Linked DNA regions of Homo sapiens: region 1 is linked to region 2. The links come from fine-mapping of genetic effects on gene expression. Tissue or cell type: monocytes after LPS. Region 2 holds a variant in brackets; the other region holds the start of a gene. All regions are shown on one strand. Distances are from middle to middle.

Region 1 (4,335 bases), 93 kb after region 2:
GGGCAGCCACAGCTGCACCTGGGAGCTCCCACCCCGCCAACTTGGAAGAGGCAGGGCTCCCACTTGTCCCTGGCTCCTGCCTGCGCGGCTGCAGCTGCATCTGGAAGGGCAAATTCTGCCTGTTCCCGGCTCCCCCAGGAGCAGAGAGGCTCGGATCCACAGCTGCAGTTTGGGTGGCTGTAGCCCTGCCCAAGAGGGTGGGGCTCCTGCCTGCTCCATAGAGCAGAAGGCCTGGGTCTGCAGCAGCGGTTTGCGGCTCCAGTCCCAACTCATGAGGGACGGGGCTTCCACCGGCTCCATGAAGTGTGCAGCCCTAGCCACACAGCGTGATGGCAGCAGCCACTGCCATCACAAGGACCCAAATTCATTTCTTGCTTCCCCTCCTCTTCCTGCGCAGAGTCCCTGTGCTTCAGCACTCAGCGTGGGCTTCCATTTCCCAAACAGCAAATAATTCATTCTTTTTTAGGCCTTGGTATTTGCTGTCTTCTGCACCCAGAATTCTTTCCTTACTCCCTGCCAGGCCCAGGCCAACTCTCCAGGCTGACGTCACTGCCCTTCTGGTACACACATCAACAGCAGTTCTTGTTTTACCATTGTGTACAGAATTATTTATGGGCTTGTCTATCCTACAGACCGTGTGGCCATAAGCTGTCAGTTGTGGGTATCAGCACACAGCAGGGACTCATTAATGTTTGGGGCTTTAAATAAAAACTCAAGCCAGATGCAGTGGCTCACACCTGTAATCCCAACACTCTGGAGGCCAAGGTGAGAGGATTGCTTGAGCCAAGGTTTAAGACCAGCCTGGGCAGCATACCCAGACCCCATCTCTACCAAAAAAAAAAAATTATGTTTTTTTGAGGCAGAGTCTAGCTTTGTCGCCCAGGCTGGAGTGCAGTGGCACAATCTTGGCTCACTGCAACCTCTGCCTCTCGGGTTTAAGCGATTATCCCACCTCAACCTCCCGTGTAGCTGGGATTACAGGTGCCCACCACCACGCCCGCTAATTTTTGTATTTTTAGTAGAGATGGGTTTTCACCATGTTGGCCAGGCTAATCTTGAACTCCTGACCTCAAATGATCCGCCTGCCTCAGCCTCCCAAAGTGCTGGATTACAGGTGAGAGCCACCTCACGTGGCCTCTACAAAATAATTTTTAAAATTAGCCAGGCATTGAGACTTGGCAGAGTGTGAGGCAAAAAATAAAATAAATAAAAAATACCTAGGTGTGGTGGTGCACACCTGTAGTCCCAGCTACTCAGGAGCCTGAGGCAGGAGGATCACTTGAACCCAAGAGGTTGAAGCCACAGTGAGCTATGATCATGCCACTGTACTCCAGCCTGGGCATCAGGACAAGACCCTGTCTCTAAAACTAAATTAAATAATAAATAAATATAAGAATCCCCTTGGCTGCTACGTGGAGAATGGACCTAGGGGAAGGGCGAGAGTGGAAGCAGAGAAACCAGTGAGGATCTGCCGCAGCAGTCCAGACAGATGCTGGAGGCCGGGGTGTGGGTGGAGATGGGAACAGCTGGCAGATGTATGTAGTGGGTATATCGGATGGGACTTGCTGATGGGGTGTACATGGTGGGTGGAGGAGGGAAAAATGAAGAATGGCTATATCCAGCAGTGCAGCAGGTGTACGTCGTCCAGGAGTTAACTCCGGGCACGGGGACGAATGCTACAGGGGAGGCAGGGTGCTCCTGTCCAACTGTGGCCGACCCTGGGGCAGAAGATTGTTAACGCCGGGCACAGTGGCTCACGCCTGTGATACCAACACTTTAGGAGGCTAAGGAGCTCAAGACCACCATAGGAACATAGCAAGATCCCTGTTTCCACAAAAATATTGAACAATTAGCCGGGAGTAGTGGCGCGCGCCTGTAGTCTCAGCTCCTCGGGAGGCTGGGGTGGGAAGATCGCTTGAGCCCAGGAGTTCGAGGATGCAGTGAGCTATGATCGCACCACTGCACTCTAGCCTGGGCGACAGAGCGAGACCCTGTTTCTTAAAAAAAAAAAAAAAAGTTTAGAACACGAAAAATCAAGGCTTCCTCAACTGAAAACCACTTTCTCTTGTGCCGCCCCCTTGACTGGATCTCAGGCCAAACCCCAACCCGCCCCAACACTTTACCCCTAATTCCCGGCCCCACAGAGCCCCACGCGCGGCGGGCGAGCATCTACTTACGAAATGACTCCTGCGGCCTCTCCGAAATCCCAGGAGCATCCTTGCAGCGCGAGGAGAATGGACCGGGGCCTGGACTCATCAGCAGATCTATCCACAGCCAGGGACCACTCCCTAAAGCCCGCCGCAGGCCCAGCCCTCACGCTTTCTCTTCGCAATGGACTTTGCAGCAACCACGTCGGCCATTGGCTCAGCTCGGCCCTCGACCAATCAGAGCTAAGGTTACTTCCACACCGGTCGTTCTTGGCAACCAGTGGGTACCGTTCAAATCCCCGCCAGGGCGGAAACGTCCGCCCTTATCCGTTCTCTTATTGGTCAGGTTAGACGTCCATTTCTGACGCCACAGCCTATCCGGCGCTGCGGGAGGCGGAGGGCGGGCTGGATGAAGGACTGGGCGAGCACCGAGGGCGTGAACCCGGAAGGTGGCGCGGCCACCAGTAACATGATCTCTAGACTGGGACGGTGGGGTTCCTGCCGGCTGTATTCGGGCCTTGGACTGGACTGAGAAGCTACGGTGCGGATCCAGCTGGGGTATCAGGGGCTAGGCACGTGATGAAAATGAAGGACGCGGACACCAGGACAGGAATCTCCTGGTTCTTAGAGAATTTATTTCGCCACAAATAATTGGCAAACGGGATCTCGCTGTATTGCTCAGGCTGGTCTCGAACTCCTGGGCACAAGCGATCCTCACGCCTCAGCCTTGCCCAATGTTGGGATTACAGACGTGAGCTACCATGCCCAGCCCAGGATTCTTTTAAAACTTAAATCTGATCGTGCCTCTGGCCTTATTGGAATCCAATGCCATTACCACCTCCACCACCACACATCCCGTCTCCAGCCACCCTGGCCTTCATTCAGGCCTTTGTGTTTTCTTTTTCTTTTCTTTTTTTTTTTTTTTTTTGAGACGAGTCTTGCTCTGTCGCCCAGGCTGGAGTGCAGTGGCGCGATCTCGGCTCACTGCAACCTCCGCCTTCCGGATTCAAGCAATTCTCTGCCTCAGCCTCCCAAGTGGCTGGGATTACAGGTGCCCACCACCAAGCCCGGCTAATTTTTTTGTATTTTTAGTAGAGACGCGGTTTCACTATCTTGGCCAGGCTGGTCTTGAACTCCTGACCTTGTGATCCACCCGCCTCGCTCGGCCTCCCAAAGTGCTGGGATTACAGGTGTGAGCCACCGCGCCCAGCCTGTGTTTTCTTATTAGTAATTATAAAGGGAATCTTATTTGACAGTTCTTTGACAAATAATTCAGTTTGCAGAGGGGATCCTGCCCCAGAGGCCCTGGCTTGGAGTGGAATGCAGGGCCGTGTGCAGGAGAGCCTGCTCAAGTGCCGCCTGGCTTTTCCCTCCTTAGGTGGAGACCATCCATGGAAAAGAACCCCCCTGATGATACGGGCCCCGTGCACGTGCCTTTGGGGCATATTGTGGCCAATGAGAAATGGCGCGGGTCACAGCTGGCGCAGGAGATGCAAGGTCGGTGGCCTGCCCTCTGCCAGCCCTTTCCTCCCCTGACATATTAAAAAAAAAAAATCTGCCTATTATTGCCATCTTTTCATCCAAAGCTTATGGAACTCATTTTCTTCTCTGTATTTTAAGGGAAAATTAAGCTCATTTTCGAGGATGGCTTGACACCAGACTTTTATCTGTCGAACAGATGCTGCATTCTTTATGTCACCGAAGCTGATTTGGTGGCAGGAAATGGCTACAGAAAGAGGCTTGTTCGGGTTAGAAATGTAAGTATTAGGCTGGGTGCTGTGGCTCACGCCAGTAATCCCAGCACTTTGGGAGGCCAAGGCGGGTGGATCACCTGAGGTCAGTAGTTGGAGACCAGCCTGGCCAACATGGTGAAACCCTGTCTCTGCTAAAAATACAAAAATTAGCTGAGTATGGTGGCGCACGCCTGTAATCCCAGCTACTAGGGAGGCTGAGACGGGAGAATTGCTTGAGCCTGGGAGGCAGAGGCTGTAGTGAGCCGAGATCACGCCACTGCACTCCAGCCTGGGCGACAGAGTGAGATTCCAACTCAAAAAACAAAAAACAAAAACAAAAAAGAAATGTAAGCATTGGATTAAAGAAACTCGAACATTGATTTGTCTCACCCCACCCTTCCCTCCATCCCTTGGTATCATTTATTTAAAATCATTGGCCAGGTCAGGCACGAAGT
Region 2 (4,386 bases):
ACCCAGGTGCCTCTCTGCCTTGCCTGCCCCGCCCTCCTTGGCATCCTGGACTCGTGGCTTCTCTGCCCATTTCCTATGGCACCCAGCAGGAGGCTGGGCAGAAGATAGTGTCTGTGGGACACCTGCCCTTGCCCTGGTCACAGTGCCATCCAGGAGTCCCCATACTTGCAAAGTATGTTTGCACTGTGTGAAAAACTTAAAGCAGAAACATAAGAACAAAAGTGGACACTTCTCAAAAGAATAAAATGTTTGCATAAAAGGCAGAAAGACAGGGATGTCAACAGTGGTTCTCTAGGTCACGATGGCGGGAGCAGCATTCCTGCTGACAAGCACTCCTGCCCCGCGCAGCCACGCTGGGCTGCCGCCGCCTGTCAGCCTGTCTACAGGAGGCTGCAGAGCGGCCGTAAATGCCTTTGAAATAGCATCACAGTTATTTGTTAGGTCATCTCCTAGGGAGATGATACACAGTTTTCAATCCCAGTGAGTCTTTCTACCGCTTGTAAAATAAAATTAAATTACAATGATTCAACTGTTGAACAAGCTTATAGAGTCATAAAAGAACTATGATTTTCTATCTCACCCTTCCGTCTGGCAATCAAAGATCACACGTAGAACTTCTACACATGACCAAGGACCAGTACTGGGGCCTCCTTCCCACCTGAAACAAGGCAGGACTTCACTGCGAGGGGCTCTGAAAAGGAGATGCTGCAGGGTGCCACCCCTGAGTCCCACAGTTAGGGTCCTTTGTAGCCCAATGTCCCCAAGTCCCTCCAGCATGCCTGGGACTGAATGGTCCTGAGCGGCTGGGGTAATTTTCCTGAGGAGGTGGCACGTCATCTAACACACATGGGACAGAACCATGGCCCCCTGGTATGCTTCTTGGTGGTGGCAGTGGGGCAGGGACTCTATCTTAGCTCAAAGCCAGGGCTCTCATTACATGGGTGGGGAGCTGTGTGGCTCCAGAATCAATTACCTTCCCAGACCAGGCGCGGTGGCTCATACCTATAATCCCAACACTTTGGGAGGCCTAGGCAGGAGGATTGCTTGAAGCTAGACGTTTGAGACCAGCTTGGGCAACATAGCAAGACCCCATCTCTACCAAAAAAAAAATTTTTTTTTTTTGAGACAAAGTCTCGCTCTTGTTGCCCAGGCTGCCCAGGCTGGGGTATAATGGCGTGATCTTGGTTCACTGCAACCTCCGCCTTCCAGGTTCAAGCAATTCTCCTGCCTCAGCCTCCCAAGTAGCTGGGATTACAGGCACCCACCACCATGCCCAGCTAATTTTTGTATTTTTAGTAGAGATGGGGTTTCACCATGTTGGCCAGGCTGGTCTCGAACTCCTGGCCTCGGGTGATCCGCCTGCCTCGACCTCCCAAAGTGCTGGGATTACAGGAGTGAGCCACCATGGCTGGCCTACAAAAATTTTTTTTTTACAAAATTAGCCAGGCATGTTAGTGTATACCTGTCATCTCACCTACTCAGGAGGCTGGGATGGGAGGATCGCTTGAGCCTGGAGGTCAAGGCTGTGGTGATTGCACCACTGCATTCCAGCCTGGGTAACAGAGTGAGACCCTGTCTCAAAACAAACAAACAAAAGTAACAACTAAACAAAAGAGAATAAAGTACTTGCTCAGGAGGATAGAGAAGGGCTAGGGGAGAGGGCAGAAAAGGTTTGTACAACTTAGAGGGCATGAACAGCAGCAGCACCTTGTTTTTTTTGACCAAACAAGAAAAGGCCCCCAGAGCTCACGCACAGCTATCATCAGGGCCGGTGCCATGGCCTGGCTCCTCGGGTGACACTTCCCCATCTGACACATGGCACGAGGGCTCAGCTGCCCGCCCAACCCTTCCAGCACTTCCCAGCTGCAGATCTAGGAGCTGGAAGGCAGGCCTGCTCAGCAGGCCACCTACTCACCAGAGCAGTGGGTGTCATAGAACTCATCTCAGTGGCAATGTGGCCAGAGAACATGCCCTGGCTAAAACAGATTTCAGCAGCACGTTATTAAAATAAAGCACAATGGGCCAGGCGCAGTGGCTCACACGTGTCATTCCCGCACTTTGGGAGGCCAAGGCAGGAGGACAG[A/C]TTGAGGCCAGGAGTTCAAGACCAGCCTGAGCAACATAGCAAGACCTCATCTCAACAAAAAAGAAAAAAATTAGCTGGGCCTGACAGTGCACACCTGAGGTCCCAGCTACTCAGGAGGCTGAAGCAGAAGGATCTCAAACATGTTTGAGGCTGCCGTGAGCTATGATTGCACCACTGTACTCCAGCATGGGCAACAGAGTGAGACCCTAGCTCTAAAAAAAAAAAAAAATTAAAAAATAAAGCAAAATGTTATCAATGGATTAAACTATGAGACCATTTATTTCTTCCCTGCCCTGCAGCGTTCAGTGGGCTTACGCACCTCCGGCTGCCACCATGGGCTGCCCTGCAGGGAAGGCCTGTGTGAGGCAGACCTTTCAGGCCAGAGGAGGCTACACCACGGGCTCCCGCAGATTCTAGCAGGTGGGGGCATGAGACTTCAGGTCATAGGAGCAGACATCGCAGCCGTCCAGCAGGTCTGCCTGAGAGACGCCATTGAGGCTGGGGGCAACCAGAGCTCTGGGGTTGTCCTGCACGCCTGTCCTCGTGAGTGTGTCCTGGAGAAGTTCTCGGATTCTTCGGTTTTCCCTGAAGGTAGATTCCCAAATAACTTCAAGTTCACCTTCCATTTCTCTGAGGGAAATAAGTTTAAAATGGCACAATTTTAAAAATAATATAGAGCCCATATGAATCCCAAAGTAGCAAGAACTCAAAACAGAAGAACGCTATCAGCAGGGAACAGAGCCCTCGGTGCCTGGGTTCTGAAGCAAGCGCTCAGTGTGGAATGAAGCAGCTGGTGCCCTGGGAATGGGGAGCAGCAGGACAGCCCAGGCTGGGGCTCAGTGTGGAATGAAGCGGCCAGTGCCCTGGGAATGGGGAGCAGCAGGACGGCACAGGCATTTCTCTTCCCTCTATGTTCTGCCCTTGACTTTGGCGCCAGTGCAATCCCTGTTTTCTCTCAAGAATGAACTTGGGCGTGTCGAATAAGGAACTGCAGGAACTGCAGGGCTGGCCTTGGCCAGCCAGACGCTCTAGCACGATGGCCTGGCCACAGGCACCCACACAGCCCCTCCTGTGTCCCGTCTGCTTGTCCACTGTGACCTGGCCAGCACTCAGTGACCTTCCACAGGTCTTCCGCTCCATACAGCCCAGAGCTAAGAGCGAGTCAGGGGGTGAGGTGGGGGACCTGAGGAGATAAGACTCATTGCCAAGATGGAGAAGATTGGCCTGGCCCATGTGCCGGGATGGGGAGGCCCTGAGGGGCCGAGGCATGTGAGGTTGGAAAGAGCCACAGGGCAGCGTTTCCAGAACCAGGATGCAGTGCCCTGTGGTGTGCTGGGGAGACAGGACAGATGAAGGTGGCCACATCCTCACAGGGCCACAGTCCACTGGGAATAGACCAGGACACGAGCCACACCTCACAAGGTGCTTAGCCCCATCGGGGAGCATGGCCAGGCTGGAGAGGCCAGCTCCTTCCCGGACACTGCCAGATGGTTCTGGAAAATGTTGGAAACTGGATTTGCAGGTGGACTTCGCACCACGGTTTAAAGAGCAGGACACTGAAGTTCAGGGAGGCCAGTGATGTGCCCACTTGGCCAGAGTCACTTTTCTTGTGAACGTTCCTTCCTTCCAAGGCCCCTGATGCCCACTGTGTGGTAAGAACAACTTAATTAAACTATGTCTAAAAAAGCCCCAGCCTGGGCAACATGTGAGACCTCATCTCTACAAAAAACTTAAAAATTAGCTGGGCCCACGTGGTGGCATGCACCTGTATTTCCAGCTACTCGGGAGGCTGAGGCAGAAGGATGACTTGAGCCCAGAAATTTGAGGCTGCAGTGAGCTGAGATTGTGCCACTGTACTTTAGCCCAGGCAACAGAGCAAGACCTTGTATTTAAAAAAAAAAAAAAAAAAAAAATTCCCCAGACTTTGGTTTTCTGAAGATATTTGGTAAATTATAGCAATCATGTTTAAATGTATGGCTGAACTCGAAAGAACAGGCAGTCTCTAAGGGCAGAAAAAATGAAGCCTAAACTGAAACCAAAGAGGCAGACAAAGTATCAGTTGCTTTGAGGACAAAAGTCAATGCCAAACCCTGGATGTTTGTAGACTGAGAGATCGTGCAGATCAAGAGTGACAGAAAATCTCAGGACCCACTCTTGTCCAAGTTTCTCTTCCTACTAGAGGCACTGTGAAGGTAGGTAAGTGGAGGATGTGAAGGACCCTCAAAGAAAGGAGGGGTGGGTGGGAGACCTGCAGATCTTCAAAGGAAACCTGTTCTGAAAGGCCAGGCATCACCTGGGGACTA

Alleles and levels. Alleles are on the strand shown, and positions count from the first base shown. SD is a standard deviation of normalised expression in the study named.
For the expression in monocytes after LPS of the gene that starts at base 2,300 in region 1, C is the low allele of the variant in region 2 and A is the other (small effect, 0.40 SD a copy in Fairfax 2014).

What was found. PIP is the estimated chance that this variant, and not a neighbour inherited with it, causes the effect. A credible set is the group of variants that fine-mapping cannot tell apart.
Region 1: it holds the start of CEP89, and the variant in region 2 is the best candidate, but not a certain one, in a credible set for the expression of CEP89 in monocytes after LPS (Fairfax 2014, PIP 0.77).

The regions. Positions count from the first base shown.
Region 1 is chr19:32,969,659-32,973,993 of GRCh38, forward strand. It overlaps CEP89 (centrosomal protein 89), which reads right to left and starts at 2,300. Exons shown (of 19, transcript NM_032816.5): 1 at 2,178-2,300. The coding sequence starts at 2,216. It overlaps FAAP24 (FA core complex associated protein 24), which reads left to right and starts at 2,584. Exons shown (of 5, transcript NM_152266.5): 1 at 2,584-2,688; 2 at 3,526-3,644; 3 at 3,768-3,904. The coding sequence starts at 3,539. RefSeq lists enhancers at 2,108-2,327, 2,708-2,757 and a silencer at 2,438-2,567.
Region 2 is chr19:32,876,666-32,881,051 of GRCh38, forward strand. It overlaps CEP89 (centrosomal protein 89), which reads right to left. Exons shown (of 19, transcript NM_032816.5): 19 at 1-2,713. The coding sequence ends at 2,497. Among named protein-coding and RNA genes, the nearest start is that of SLC7A9, 9.1 kb to the left of the region's middle. The variant A/C (reference allele first, on the strand shown) is at 2,084.